Homo sapiens: one gene and its partner. The protein of the gene in region 1 interacts with the protein of each later gene in a pairwise test. Each region holds a gene or a part of one and is shown in the gene's direction. Other genes may lie near its edges.

Region 1 (9,986 bases):
TACTCTCACCAGCAGGGTATAAGCTTTCCTTTTTCTCCACAACCTTGCCAGTATCTGTTGTTTTTTGACTTTTTGATAGTAGCCATTCTGACTGGTGTGAGATGGTATCTCATTGTAGCTTTGATTTGCATTGCTCTAATGATCAGTAGTGTTGAGCTTTTTTTCATGTGTTTGTTGGTCACATATATATCTTCTTTTGACAAGTGTCTGTCCATGTCCTTTACCCACTTTTTAATGAGGTTGTTTTTTATTTTTTTCCCTTGTAAATTTGTTTAAGTACCTTGTAGATGTTGGATGTTAGACCTTTGTCAGATGGTTAAATTGCAAATATTTTCTCCCATTCTGTAGGTTGTCTGGTCATTCTGATGATAGCTTCTTTTGCTGAGCAGAAGCTCATTAGTTTCATTAGATCTCACTTGTCAATTTTTGCTTTTGCTGCAATTGCTTTTGGTGTCTTTGTCATGAAATCTTTGCCTGCGCCTATGTCCTGAAGGGTATTGCTTAGATTTTCTTCTAGGGTTTTTATAGATTTGGGTTTTACATTTAAGTTCTTAATCCATCTTGAATTAATTTTTGTATATGGTGAAAGGAGGGGTCCAGTTTCAATTTTCTGCATATGGCTAGCCAGTTCTCCCAGCATCATTTATTAAATAGCGAATCCTTTCCCCATTGCTTGTTTTGGTCAGGTTTGTCAAAGATCAGATGGTTTTAGGTGTGTGGTCTTATTTCTGGGCTCTGTACTCTGTTCCATTGGTCTATGTATCTGTTCTTATACCAATACCTTGCTTTTTTGTCACTGTTGTCTTGTAGTATAATTTGAAGTCAGGTAGTGTGATATCTCCAGGTCTGTTCTTTTTGTTTAGGATTGTCCTGTCTATTTGGACTCTTTTTTGTTCCACACACATTAAAAAAATTTTTTTTTCTAATTCTGTGAAGAATGTCAATGGTAATTTAATGGGCATAGCATTGAATCTATAAATTGTTTTTTCATGATATCAGTTCTTCCTATCCATGAGGATGGAATGTTTTTCCATTTCTTTGTGTCATCTCTGCTATCCTTGAGTAGTGGTTTGTAGCTCTCCTTGAAGAGGTCCTTCACTTCCCTTGTTAGCTGTATTCCTAGGTATTTTATTCTTTTTGTGGCAATTGTGAGTAGGAATTCATTTATGATTTGGCTCTCTGCTTGTCTACTGTTGGTGTATAGAAATTCTCATGATTTTTGCACTTTGATTATGTACCGTGAGACTTTGCTGAAGTTGCTTATCAGCTTAAGAAGCTTTTGAGCTGAGATGATGGGGTTATCTAGATATAGGACCACGTTATCTGCTAACAAACATAGTGTGACTTACTCTCTTCCTGTTTGAATACCTTTATTTCTTTCTCTTGCCTGATTGCCCTGGCCAGAACTTCCAATCCTATGTTGAATAGGAGTGGTAAGAGAGGGTATCCTTGTCTTGGGCCGGTTTTCAAGGGGAATGCTTCCAGCTTTTGCTCATTCAGTATGATATTGGCTGTGGGTTTCTTATGCCCTAGGATGCAAGGTTCAACATATGCAAATCAATAAATGTGATTCATCCCATAAACAGAACTAAAGACAAAAGCCACATGATTATCTCAAATGCAGAAAAGGCCTTCAATAAAATTCAACATCTCTTCATGTTAAAACCTCTCAATAAACTAGACATTGAAGGAACCTATGTTAAAATAACATTTTGTGTCTTTCTTTTCCATTGAATCTATTCAAAGCATCTTGATTTTCACTTCCTCTTTGAGTGAAGTGCTCCTGACACCTCAGCTCTGAATTCAGTGAGGGACCTCTTATGTGACACAGCATCTACTCTCTCAAGTGAGCAGACCAACCTCTGCTTGATATGGAATTGTACTGGCCTAAGAAGACTGTCTCCTAGGGAATATTTTCACCTTGTACTTACATTTAGTTCAGTTAGAAAATATAACTGACCAGGTGTGTTTCCTCACACCTGGAGCCCCAGCACTTTGGGAGGCAGAGGTGGGTGGATTGTTTGAGTCTAGGAGTTCAGGACCAGTCTGGGGAGCACAGCCCCATCTGTATATGAAAGAATTAAAAAATTAAGCCACCTACAATAACTATGTAATCATGTCAGTAATTGTTTAAATGTTTTCCACCCTTGAGCCAAGAGAATGCCACATGAATTCAAGAGTAATCCATCCAGTTTGCTGCTTGGACCTGAAAGCAGGGTGAGATTTGGGGTGACTGAGACATGGGAAGCTTTTCTAGGCTTCATTCTAGCAATTTAAAACTAGATTCTCATTGGTGTTTTGTAGCATACAAGGAATCTTGGAGCCAAAAATATTATTCCAGTCACCAGTGCCTAAAAATGCTTTAGAGATTTCTATTTTTGCCCCTCCCTCCCCCCAAAAAAAACAAAACAAAAGACTATCTGCTTCAGCTATGACTACCTAGAAAATGTGACTGTGCCTACTGTGGGCCTCTGTTGAACCATCTTGCAGCCCCCAAAGTTCTGTTGCCAGGCAGCACTTGTGTCCTTCCAAGCACTTACTGCCCATACGTAAGCCCTTGCCTTGTCTGTCCCTGCTTACAAGGGCTTCGCAGCAATCTTGAAGGCCCTCACAAGTTTCTTGTGCCTTTTGCTTATTGACATTCATGGGTACAGTCCTGCCTCTATAGAAACAACCACTGACCTATGAACAAAGCCACCACAAGTCGTGTCACAAAACCATATGCCCTAAGACTGCAAGCATCTTGCCCAGGCTCAGTAGTTAAGTATAAAAGGTGGCTCAGAATAGGCCTCTACAATCTGGAAAATGCCCGTCTCTCTTACTAAACAAATCCCAAGGCTGAGAATGACAGGATCTCTTCCCACCAAAAGCCTCTCCTTGTAAATATATAGCTCTCATACATTTGTTCTTTTGTTTTTAGTTCTTTTACATCTAAACCCATGCCCCAATTGTTTGTGTCTCTGAAAATTTGCTCTGGAACTTTAGACTCCCTCACTCCCTCCCCACTTAAATCTCCACACAGGGGAAGGCGTATACTTGTTCATAAACCCTTCTGCCAGTAGAGTTGCATCCAGGGGGAAGAGCATGGAGTTAAGTTTAGCATGGGGCCAGGTGCGGTGGCTCATGCCTGTAATCCCTGCACTTTGGGAGGCCGAGTGGGTGGATCATGAGGTCAGGAGATCGAGACCATCCTGGCCAGCATGGTGAAACCCAGTATCTACTAAGAATACAAAAATTAGCTGGGCGTGGTGGCACGTGCCTATAGTCCCAGCTACTCGGGAGGCTGAGGCACCAGAATCGCTTGAATCCAGGATGCAGAGTTTGCAGTGAGCCGAGATTGTGCCACTGCACTCCAGCCTGGGCAACAAAGTGAGACTCTTTCTCAAAAAATTATAGTAATAATAATAATAAGTTTATCATGACTCAATTATTCTTCCCAAATTTACTGATCACATAAGGCACGTCACTTCTTCCAGGATGGAGTGAGTTAAGGAGCAGAAGGAGGAACAGGAGTAGGAGTTGCATGCACATGGAAGAAAATAGATGTCCCCCCAACACAACCATTCATTAATATATTCAGGCAAATGAAAAGTTATTCTGTTCAATTAGATTTGGCGTATTTAGCAAATAAAAATATGGGACTCCTAGTTACATTTGTATTTCAGATAAACAGTGACTACTTTTTAAATGCAATTATATCCTGATATGGCTCCATGTCTCCACCCAAATCTCATCTTGAACTGTACTCCCATAACTCCCATGTGTTGTGGGAGGGACCCAGTGAGAAATAATTGAATCCTGGGGACAGTTTTCTCCATACTGTTCTTCTGGTAGTGAGTAAATCTCACGAGATCTGATGGTTTGATAAGGGGAAACCCATTTCGCTTGGCTCTCATTCTCTCTTTGCCTGCTGCCATTCATGTAAGATGTGACTTGCTCCTCCTTGCCTTCTGCCATGATTGTGAGGCCTCCCCAGCCATGTGGAACTGTAAGTCCAATAAACCTCTTTATTTTGTAAATTGCCCAGTCTTGTTACGTCTTTATCAGCAGCATGAAAACGAACTCATACATATCCCAAGTATTGTATGGAACATAATTATAGTAAAAATTATTTGTTTTTTATTTGAAATACAAATTTAAATGAGACCCTTGCATTTTATCTGGCAATCCTCTACTGAGTGTTAGGCACTGTGCTAGGTGCTAGAATAATGTGAATATGACATAGTTCCTGTCTTCAGAGAGAGACGTAGAAAAATGTAACATTTTTGGCTACAGATGAGCAATTAAATTCAAAATACTCTTTTCTGAGCATATCTTTCCAACCACAGGAAACAATACTTCAGAGTCATCAACAACATCGTCACCTTTGAGCATGAAGTATATTTGAGGTTTATTCATATTTTGAATTAGTCTGAAATGACACACTGAATCTCGAAGCTATCCATATCCCACTGAACCTTCCTTTTGTTGATGAGCATGCTGTCCTCAGAGAAATAAAAAATAAGCCCTAACCGCTCCCTTCCCTAAAGATACTTAGATCATTGAGGAATACCATCAAAGGGACAGGATGTTTCAGTTCACTGTGATCGGTTCTGGAGTGAAGGAAATCCAAGTGTTATTGATGCACATGAGAGGAACACCCAGCCCAAATGTGGGAGGTCAGAGAATACCTCTCAGTAGATGTGGCACCATACTCTACAATTACAAGTTTACAAAGACCCTGTAGTGTGGATTAACTGGGTATAGTTTAAATAAATAATTTAATTTAATTTAAATAAATTGATATAACCAATATATCTTCTCCAGAATATTGGAGAAATCTCTAACCAGGAATGACTAAGCACACATTGAAACACATCCAATCCTCTTCTATTGTCATCCTGTTCCTTACTGTTTGTTGGTCGTTCATTTGGCAAGTCCTTATTGACAAATTGGTATGTGACAAGTGCTCTGTTAGGCATTGAAACAAAATGAAGAACAAACCAGGCTTGTTCCCAAACCTTGTAATACTATCTAATGAGAAAAATAGGCATTATACAATCACATAAACATATAGAGAATGATAAAATTTGGTGACTTCCATGGGAGAAAGAACATAATAATATTTGTTAAAAAAGAGGACCCTCTTTCCATTACCTGCCAAGGTTGGGCACCCTGAGGATGGGACATTTGATCTGAGATCATCTCCCATTTCTAATGTAAAGGTATCTGAATGATGACAACTTTATCCTGGTAGGTAGATTCCCAAGAATGGCTTACCTCTAAGTCTAAAACACGCCTTCCTAACAGAAGTTATATCACCTTCAAAGGGGCAAGAATTGACTCTTGGGAAGATGAAAAAAACTAATTTTTTAATGTATCAAACACAGCTATACATGCAGCACATAAACACATACATAGTATATTTGTGGTATTAAATTTTCATGGAAAAAGGGGGTGGCTAAAAACAAAATTGTCTAAAAAAGATCCTTAGGGGAGCAATAACGAAAAAATGGTTGAGAAACACTGGTTCAGAGTTTTTATTCAATAGTCCCTCAAATAATACTTACTAAAGGAATGCTTTCAAGAAAGAACAGTTAGAGGTGCGGGGGATATAAGGGGTAAGAAAAGGGGCCCTTAAATGTTAGTGGGAAAGAAGACACGAAAGCAAACAAGGAAATAGAGAAAATAATTGCAAATTGTTATAAACACTGTGAAAAAAACACAAAGGACCTGAAACAAAATAATGGGGTGGAACCTCTTTGATTGCAAAGCCCTTTCTGAGAAGGGCTTTGGCTTTAAAAACGGTGGTACGCTTGCTGATTTATCTCCTAATTTGCAGATCTGGGTGAGATTACGGGAAGTCCTTGATCTGTACATTTGTATTATTTTCCTGTTCAGAAGCCTCATAACAACTTATGTGAAAGTCAAAAAGGCATATGCTTGACACCTTGACTGTGTGATTCACACCACGCTCATTAAGCTTGCCTACATTAGGAGCTGCATGCAGAACCAAAGGCTGTGTGAAGACAAGGTAGTGAAGGGGTTTCCCATATGAAAAATACAGAAAGAATTATTTGAATACTAGCAAATACACAACTTGATATTTCTAGAGAACCCAGGCACAGTCTTGGAGACATTACTCCTGAGAGACTGCAGCTGATGGAAGATGAGCCCCAACTTCTAAAAATGTATCACTACCGGGATTGAGATACAAACAGCATTTAGGAAGGTAGCCACATTCACATTTTCAGAGCCCAAAGCAAAATATGACACTAAGCTCTTCTTCCCTTTTCTGATTCTTGCAGGTCTCATCTGAGTAGCAGCTTCCTGCCCTCCTTCTTGGAGATAAGTCGGGCTTTTGGTGAGACAGACTTTCCCAACCCTCTGCCCGGCCGGTGCCCATGCTTCTGTGGCTGCTGCTGCTGATCCTGAGTGAGTAGATGGGCTATAATGGGGCCACGGCCTCAGTTCCTAAAGGTGACCAGGGAAAAACTCAAGGAGCTTCTATCTCTGCTTCTACTTGGGGTTCAGAGACAGATAGCAAGGGATGGGAAGTGAGCAGAGCTGGGTTCCCTGGACAACCAAGAGGCTCCAAATGCAACCATCAGAGCAAGCCAGATATCCTGACCTTGGTTTCTCACCCACTGCTTTTCTCACCTCATAGGAAACTTGGATTTTTCCTTCTGCCAAACCACAACTCTATATCCCACCCTCCCTCTTAAGCCTCAGACTAAATAATTTTTCAGATGAGCAGTTACTTCTAAAAACCTAGGCACGTGAAGGAAGGTTTACTGAGAAACATCACTGTTTTCTAGAAGTTTTAAGCCAAAATTTAATCAGAGATTGAAAAAGTGAGGGGAACAATAGGAGCCCAAGGAACGAAAGGAGGATAAACCATTTCTGTAAGTCCTTGTCTGCCTCTGCACTCAGAGAAGAGAAGGAGAGAATAAAGTGTGCCGTGGCCAAGTAAATAATAGCAGAGATGAGGTCAGGCCTTGGACATAAGCCATCACGTTTGTAAAATACATTATATGACATTTTCTTTGTTGTTTAGGGGCTCTGGATGATATAAAAAGGGAGCAAAGAAATGATAAGGAAAAACAAAAGAAGTGGTTGTGGTTAGGTTGTTAGAAAATGTTTCGGAGAGTGTCTGATTGTCATTTTCTGCTCCCTCACAGCTCCTGGAAGAGAACAATCAGGTAAGTTTCTCCTTCTCTCTGCCCCTCTGGTCTCTGGATATTGGTCCCCTCAGCCCACACAGCCTGCCCTAACCCTTGCAGGCACGCATCCCATCAGCAATGCTAATGCTCTGGGGTCACATCTGCTACTATATTGGGTGAACAGAGCCTCCTCCGACTTTTTCAGTCTCTAGGTTTTTTTTTTTTTTTCTCCCTACATTACCGGTATTCCTCAGACTACAGGAAGGAAACACTTGCAGAGCAAAGGACAGAGGCAAGAGGCTGATGATGAAGGAATCTCATATGTGATCTCCATATTCTCTAGTACATCTCCCTCTGAATGTCCAAGCTAGTGCTGCTATCAAAGGACATAGAAATAGATCCCATCCACGGAGGAAGATGCTACAGCAGAATCCTTATAAATCTCCAAAAAGAGCTCATGCCACTGCCACACCTCACTTCCATGCCTGTCAGTCAGTTGCAATTCCATACACAAGTCTGACTTCTCAGGCAACCCATCCTCCTCCATTTAAATTCTTTATATCCCTCCATTGTTTACTGTGTCCAACTTAAATGGAGAGTAAAGTTGCCTTCCCCATAGACTTTCAAAGCTAAGAGAGATATAAAAGTAATACAAGTGAGAAAATCTTATTCATTTTAAGTGTTAACAAGTAGGAAGTAATTTTCTGGAGTCTAGAAACTACTTCTGAGGTATATACATCCCAGGTTCACCTTTATCTGGACAGAAATGTATAGGACAAGAGAATTTCAGGATCAGCCACATTCTGAGGCCTTCGCAGTTTTTGCCCAATGGCAAATCACATCTCCTGAGCTTTTCTGAGGCTATGCCAGGAAACTGAGACCTCTCCCCTATAATACCCTTCTGCCCACCTCCAGGAAATGGATGAGGAAGAACAGATTCTTTCCCAGGCATTTCCCTAGGTTATTTCTGCTCAATTTTCCACCCTGGTCCTGACTGGAAATTAGTCCAGGAAAACTCCTGACTGTAGGTTGGGCTCCCCATGTGCTGTGCCCACCTCCCATTGACCTTCCCCTGCCTTCATCTTTCTATTTCCTGTTTAGGGGTGGCCCCAAAAGCTGTACTTCTCCTCAATCCTCCATGGTCCACAGCCTTCAAAGGAGAAAAAGTGGCTCTCATATGCAGCAGCATATCACATTCCCTAGCCCAGGGAGACACATATTGGTATCACGATGAGAAGTTGTTGAAAATAAAACATGACAAGATCCAAATTACAGAGCCTGGAAATTACCAATGTAAGACCCGAGGATCCTCCCTCAGTGATGCCGTGCATGTGGAATTTTCACCTGGTGAGGAATGGAAGGGGAGTGTCTAAAGTCAAGCCACCAGGCAGAATGCCTGAGGGCCGGGTTAATGCAGGGATCCTAGGCAGAGTTGTAAGCAGACATGGGGATTGATGCACTGACCCCAGTGGGGAAAATAAAGAGATAGGGCAGCAGCATGATGCTGGATTGTCTATCCATCTACCTCCAAAGAATTGTGGGTGACCCAGGGGCCATCAGGCAAAAAGGGGTTCAAGTCTGGGATTCCTCTTTTGTGAAAAGACATGTGAAGATTTCTCAAGAACATTTTCTGGGAATTGGTTCACCCTTGTAGGGCAAGGAAGAATCAGGTATTTGGGGCCACATGGCAATGTGGGTGGGGGCCATTTGCAGGTGTGTATAGAACTGTGGCTCTTGCCTCATGGGTGGAAATGAAAGTGAAGGCAGAAACAGCAGGGGATAACCTGAGTGTGCTCCTGTGCTCTTTGCAGACTGGCTGATCCTGCAGGCTTTACATCCTGTCTTTGAAGGAGACAATGTCATTCTGAGATGTCAGGGGAAAGACAACAAAAACACTCATCAAAAGGTTTACTACAAGGATGGAAAACAGCTTCCTAATAGTTATAATTTAGAGAAGATCACAGTGAATTCAGTCTCCAGGGATAATAGCAAATATCATTGTACTGCTTATAGGAAGTTTTACATACTTGACATTGAAGTAACTTCAAAACCCCTAAATATCCAAGTTCAAGGTAATGGCTAGATTCCTGTGGATTACTGGGTTTGTTAGGGAAACTGGGGATAAAGGGAAGATGTTTATCAGTGGGAATTTCATAAAGAGTCTCCTATGGCTCAGCCATGGGAGGGAGATGGTTCCTTCTGCATGCTTCTCTATCTCCTGATGGCTGGTGCTGAGATGACAAATGCATCTCTCTAGGAACTCTGAGCCTCACCACCCTGGAGACTATGTTGTTTCTTTTCATTAGAGCTGTTTCTACATCCTGTGCTGAGAGCCAGCTCTTCCACGCCCATAGAGGGGAGTCCCATGACCCTGACCTGTGAGACCCAGCTCTCTCCACAGAGGCCAGATGTCCAGCTGCAATTCTCCCTCTTCAGAGATAGCCAGACCCTCGGATTGGGCTGGAGCAGGTCCCCCAGACTCCAGATCCCTGCCATGTGGACTGAAGACTCAGGGTCTTACTGGTGTGAGGTGGAGACAGTGACTCACAGCATCAAAAAAAGGAGCCTGAGATCTCAGATACGTGTACAGAGTGAGTGTCTAAGGGGCTGCTCTTCCAGAGTCAGAGCTGGGGAGAGGAAGGCCAGTGATATCTCCTGCACCCCTAGGATGGTGGACATAACAGAGAGGAGTGTCCAGCTATTCTGGTAATCTTCTCTCTTTAAGCTCAACGTTGGTCTAACAGCCCTAGAACATTTTCTTCCACTTGAGTCAGGTAATAGTAATTATTGATCAGTTACTGATTGCCCAACCCTATGGGGTTACAGAGATGTACAAGATCGGTT
Region 2 (5,483 bases), on another chromosome or scaffold:
TGGAACTGAGAGCTTCTAAAAGTATCTTTAAACATGTAATGCTCTAGACAATCTGAAGTTAGAAATCTCAGGAATGAACTAGGTGCACTTGAGTGGAATTCAAGTATTAGAAGATGTCAAAGTAGAAATTTTCAAGTCATTCCTTGCAAAAACTAACTTAAAATTAGTATACAATTATTTAGCACACACTTTCTAAAATAAAGCTGCTTATTTTTAACTATAAAACAAAACTTCAGATCTATGACATGTTATGAGTTCCCAGCTTTTATTGTCATTTACTACTATGTATCACTAGGTAAAGCACTTGACTTCTCTGGAGCTCTTTCTTCTACTCTACTTCCTTCTATTTCTCCTGTCCCTTTTCTATGACATTAGTAGGAAACTGGCCATGAAAGAATAAAAATAGTTCAACTTACCTGGTAAATTCTAACAGATATTTCAAAAACTAATTTGATTATAAAATCACAGTATACCACATTATTTGTTATAAAAGGATAGGTGTCTAAAAAATAAAAAATAAAAATGTAAGGAAAACAGAGAAAAACATAATGCTTGTCTCTGTCAGTAAATAAAAGTTATGTGTAAGTAGCCTTTGAGCTGCTGAAAACATATTCTTATGAAAAAATACAAAGTTTCACTTTTCATTCACCAATGATAACCATTTACTCCCTTTTACACACAAAACAAGTATAAATCCAAATAAATTTATATTTGAATATAGCACACTAATTACAGAAAAGCATACTCTTAACTCATTTTAAAGATGTCATGAAGCAAAAATAACTAATTTAGTGTCTATCGATGATTTGCCTACATCCTGTTTACTCACAACTGTAGCTGCTGAGTTCATTTTTGTACTCAATCTGGAATTATAACATTAAGATACTAACTATTGTCTAATTTTCTGTTTTCTAAGGGAGCTGATTCATCTGAAGAGGTGAGTCATTTTCATTCACTGGAAAACTTGTTTTCAGTTTTGTCCTCCCTACATTTGTATTGAATTATTAAACTTTTCTTCATTTTTCACAGAAATTTTTGCGTAGAATTGGAAGATTCGGTGTAAGTGTTCTCTGATAATGCTGTGTAGTCCAAATAAATTGTGTTCTCTGATTACTTATTCTTCTAGAAGAACCAATACTTATTTCTCAAATATGTGTAGTAGTTGCAAAAGTGTGCTTTGTTTTCCTCTATTTATGATACACAGGTAACAGTCACAAATGTATTGTGTCCTAACAACATTTAAGTTGAAACTCATAGTGCCAACCTGAAGAAACCAGTTACTCCCTGAGCCCTCAAGTATCATCTCCTAAGTAATCACTTTGACCTAAAAAATAGTTGAAATTCTAATTCTGTTAATTATAATATATGCCTCATGGAGCATAAAGGCTGATAATTACACATAAAATATGGTAAGTTTGCACCTTCTGATTTTTTTTGACGGTGATAAACTCATTAAATTAAACAGGTCATGATAAATGAGATAGCAAATTTCATTTATTTAACATTTTTCTTAATGTATGTATCTTGATGTCCCAGTATGTTGACATATAATGTCAATGTGATAGGGTTGCAAAAGATCCCCTAACTAATATAGTGAATACATGGATTAAAATAACACCAAATAAAAAGATACTCTAAAAGGGATGATGGTTATTTGTGTTAACAGAAGGAAGAAGTATTAAGGAATGTAGGAATCGTAAGAGACAGTAAGCTCATTAAAAGAGTGACTTGAAGAAACACCACATAAGCTGAATTTAGTAAATGTCTCCTTCCCATAATACTCAAAGGTGGGCAAAATGGTTGCTGGGAGGTAGTATTTTGAAGAAAATTTAAAACCTCTTTGGAGTGATAGCCTATAATCGGTGTTCCTGCATGTGAAATAAAACCACAAAACTGTGAACATGCAGTACAAAGGTAAACACTCAATCATTTTTACCTGCTTTTAAAATGTGTTTATAACCAAAAAGAAAAATCTAATTGAAAGTTTGGAAAAAAATCTTATAAGTAATATGTAAGTTCCTAAAACTTTAACAATCTAAGCTTCTAATAAAAACGCTTGCACTGTCATTATCTCAATTTTCTGCAATTTTCTTTCTCCTTGTGTGTATACAGTATGGGTATGGCCCTTATCAGCCAGTTCCAGAACAACCACTATACCCACAACCATACCAACCACAATACCAACAATATACCTTTTAATATCATCAGTAACTGCAGGACATGATTATTGAGGTAAGATGGGTTTAGTGACATTTTTTTTACTTTCTGTATCAGTGCTGACAGTTAAAAGAAGAAAAACAAAAACAAGACATTAAACCAACAGCAGTTCCAGTATAAGAAAGCAGCCAGCTGTATAGCTCCTTGAAATGTATTAATTTATATAAATGCTTCTGAGATAGTCTCTGTCCTGCTATGGTTAGAAGGCAGTGTTATAGAGTGGGGGACACCAGGGTTTGTATGCTGGCCCTGACAACTACTAGTTTCATGACTTTGAACTACTCCTAATGCTCCTGAACCTCAGTTTTCTCGTCAAAAAATTGTGTATTATGATAACACTTAAATGTGCTTTTTAGAATTGGTGACACTTTTGAAAGACATATCACATAAAATCTCTTGATCAGAAAGGTTTGTAGTTATAACTGCAGGGCTTCCCTGCCACTAAATCTGTACCTAGGTGTTGCTTAAAGTTTTCACTCCCAAAATGCAATCTTTGGAGAAGCTTCCATCTGGGAACCATCTGGGAACTTGTGAGAAATTTGCATTTTGTACCCTAAGTAACTCTACTGAGCAATTACTATAGAAATTATTAACATAATGCTAACAAGAAAATATGGAAATGTTATCAATTTCTTTTTAGAAAGTCAGTTTTACCTATCTCTACACAACATTAAATGTTCTAAATTCTATGAAAAAATAATATTTCAAAACAAAATAGAGCAAACTCTTGGAGATAAGGGAGGATTGTTCTACAAAGTTAAAATAGTCCAAAGGATTTCAATTATTTTTCAGTGCATTTGGGAGATTATATTCCAATTCAATTCTCTATTGCCATTAGTGATACAGGGAAGAGCCTGAACTTGATCCCCTAGGTTTTAGGTAATAGCTGATGACATTTAATCAAGAAAAGATGTATTGAAATATTATTTAGAGGAAATGCATATAAATGAAATGTGTAGGCTATATTTAAGTAGAAGAATAAAATAGTATGATGATTGAAAAATAATTTAAATTGTAGATGCTGAATGATAATTTTTATTTATTCAGGAACCAATTTAATAATTGTTTAATTGTCTACTCTGTGTCAAATATTATTTTGGGCCCTGCATTTTATAAACTATAATTGTATATAATATCTACTCTGTACCAGGCCAGAATATAAATGTGTTTACAGGGGTAAAAATTTTACAGATAATCTGTTATTTTTTTTTTTCTGTGCAGGCTTGATTGGCAAATACGACTTCTACATCCATATTCTCATCTTTCATACCATATCACACTACTACCACTTTTTGAAGAATCATCAAAGAGCAATGCAAATGAAAAACACTATAATTTACTGTATACTCTTTGTTTCAGGATACTTGCCTTTTCAATTGTCACTTGATGATATAATTGCAATTTAAACTGTTAAGCTGTGTTCAGTACTGTTTCTGAATAATAGAAATCACTTCTCTAAAAGCAATAAATTTCAAGCACATTTTTACATGTATGCTCCTTATTTTTCTCTTTTCTATTTATAGGAATAATGATTTCTTTCATCATCTTCTTTCCCAGTTTGACTAGCACAGATTGAAGCCCATAATGTCAGAGGTCCTTATTTATAATTTAGTCTGTCATATTTTATATGTTACAAACATGGTACTCAAACTCACTTATTATTAGAGCTATTTATGCCAAGATTTGATTTGCCCATGGTTTCCTTTGCCACACCACAGTTGCTAAGCCTCCAAAGCACTCACATTTTTTATCTCAGTCCCTGTAGGTCAGAAGATAACCACCATGTCACTCTACAGCAGTATGTAGGCACTCTGCATGTAAACCATCTAATGCCCTCCATTAGTTTTTCAGCAATGACTTTTATTCAAGAAATATTTATTGAATGACCCCAGCTGTCAGGTCCTCTTCTAGATGCTGCAGACAAAGAGAGACAAAAGTCCTGTCTTTGGAGAGTTTACATTGTAGTTGGGAGATGCAGATACAAAGTAAATAAATAGTACATATCTTAGGCAATGATAAGTGTGCTAAAGAAGTATAAGCATGTCTAGGGCACAGAAACAAATTTAAACAGGATAGTCAACAAGAGACTCTCTGACATAGTGACATTTTATGAAAGATATGAACTAAGCATGAGAGCGAATATGGAGAAATAAATTTTCCAGCAGAAAATAGCAAATGCAAATTTATTGTGATAGAAACATGTTTGTTTCATTAGGGACAAATTCAAGGAGACCAATATGGACAGAGAAGGCAAGTGGATCAAAATAAATTACGTCACAGCATAAGGGATACGCAGGTAACTAAAGCTTTGTGGCCCATGTTAAGTCTTTGATTTGAGATGGATGACATTGGAGAAAGACATAATCTTATTTATATTTTGGAATGGAATCAAGGGTTGAATCATAGATATCCACACTTGGGCCTTACAGAAATCTGTGGGTCCTTCCTATTTTTATGTCCTTTTATTCTATGTGTTCCTTTTAAAATTTATTTTATTTTCCTCTAAGCCAGTACTTCATATTTTTCATTCACTATATACTTGCAATAACTCAAACAATTCCAGTGAACTTCTGGGTTTGGGTAACTCTACTTGCTAATATCTCAATCCTATAAATCCCTAAATTTTATATCATGTTTCTTTATCAAAACCTAGATATATAGAAAAAATGTGATTTTTTTGTTTTCTAAATTTGGAGTACAACATTGCTCACCAAGTTTTTTCCACGTATTTGATGCAATACCTCTCTCATTAACCTACAATAAATTGCCCCAATATTTGTTTTCTGAAGGAACCAACTCATCTCACTCAGTAGTCAATTTCAAAATAATAATATTGATAATAATAATAACAACAACATACGTATTTGAAAGGAAAATTGAATTCATTAGGCATAAGTGTCTTAAACTTCTTACTCTCACTTTTAATAAATTAATCTATATCTGATCAGATTTCTAATTCTCAAAGTCTTAAAGGTGAAGATGACTGTCATGTTTTCCAAAGATATTTTTTCATTATTCTTTGTTTTGCATTTTCTCCTTTATTCTCAGAGAAATTTTTGAAACTAAGATGTTCTTTCAAATGAATACTATCATGCTAAAAATAATAATAAAACAACCTAATATTTACCTTTAAATAATGTATATTTTAAATTTCTCATATATATGAAATATATAAATATATAAATCATATTTCATATTATATATTAATATATGAAATATATATTTTCATTTAATTCACTTTCAACTATTATTATAACATGGTCTGG

What was found. Proteins that work in one complex are often made in the same cells at the same time.
Region 2: the proteins of FCRL3 (region 1) and STATH interact in binary tests that used the Homo sapiens proteins (3 or more experiments, as listed by UniProt).

The regions. Positions count from the first base shown.
Region 1 is NC_000001.11:157,696,887-157,706,872, reverse strand, and holds the start of FCRL3 (Fc receptor-like protein 3 isoform 1 precursor), read left to right. Parts: upstream 1-6,103; 5' UTR 6,104-6,211; intron 6,212-6,287; 5' UTR 6,288-6,383; coding exon 6,384-6,414; intron 6,415-7,160; coding exon 7,161-7,181; intron 7,182-8,243; coding exon 8,244-8,489; intron 8,490-8,953; coding exon 8,954-9,214; intron 9,215-9,448; coding exon 9,449-9,733; intron 9,734-9,986. UniProt on the Homo sapiens protein: Promotes TLR9-induced B-cell proliferation, activation and survival but inhibits antibody production and suppresses plasma cell differentiation. Enhances activation of NF-kappa-B and MAPK signaling pathways in TLR9 stimulated B-cells.
Region 2 is NC_000004.12:69,998,751-70,004,233, forward strand, and holds the end of STATH (statherin isoform a precursor), read left to right. Parts: intron 1-916; coding exon 917-937; intron 938-1,029; coding exon 1,030-1,059; intron 1,060-2,112; coding exon 2,113-2,199; 3' UTR 2,200-2,232; intron 2,233-3,438; 3' UTR 3,439-3,820; downstream 3,821-5,483. UniProt on the Homo sapiens protein: Salivary protein that stabilizes saliva supersaturated with calcium salts by inhibiting the precipitation of calcium phosphate salts. It also modulates hydroxyapatite crystal formation on the tooth surface.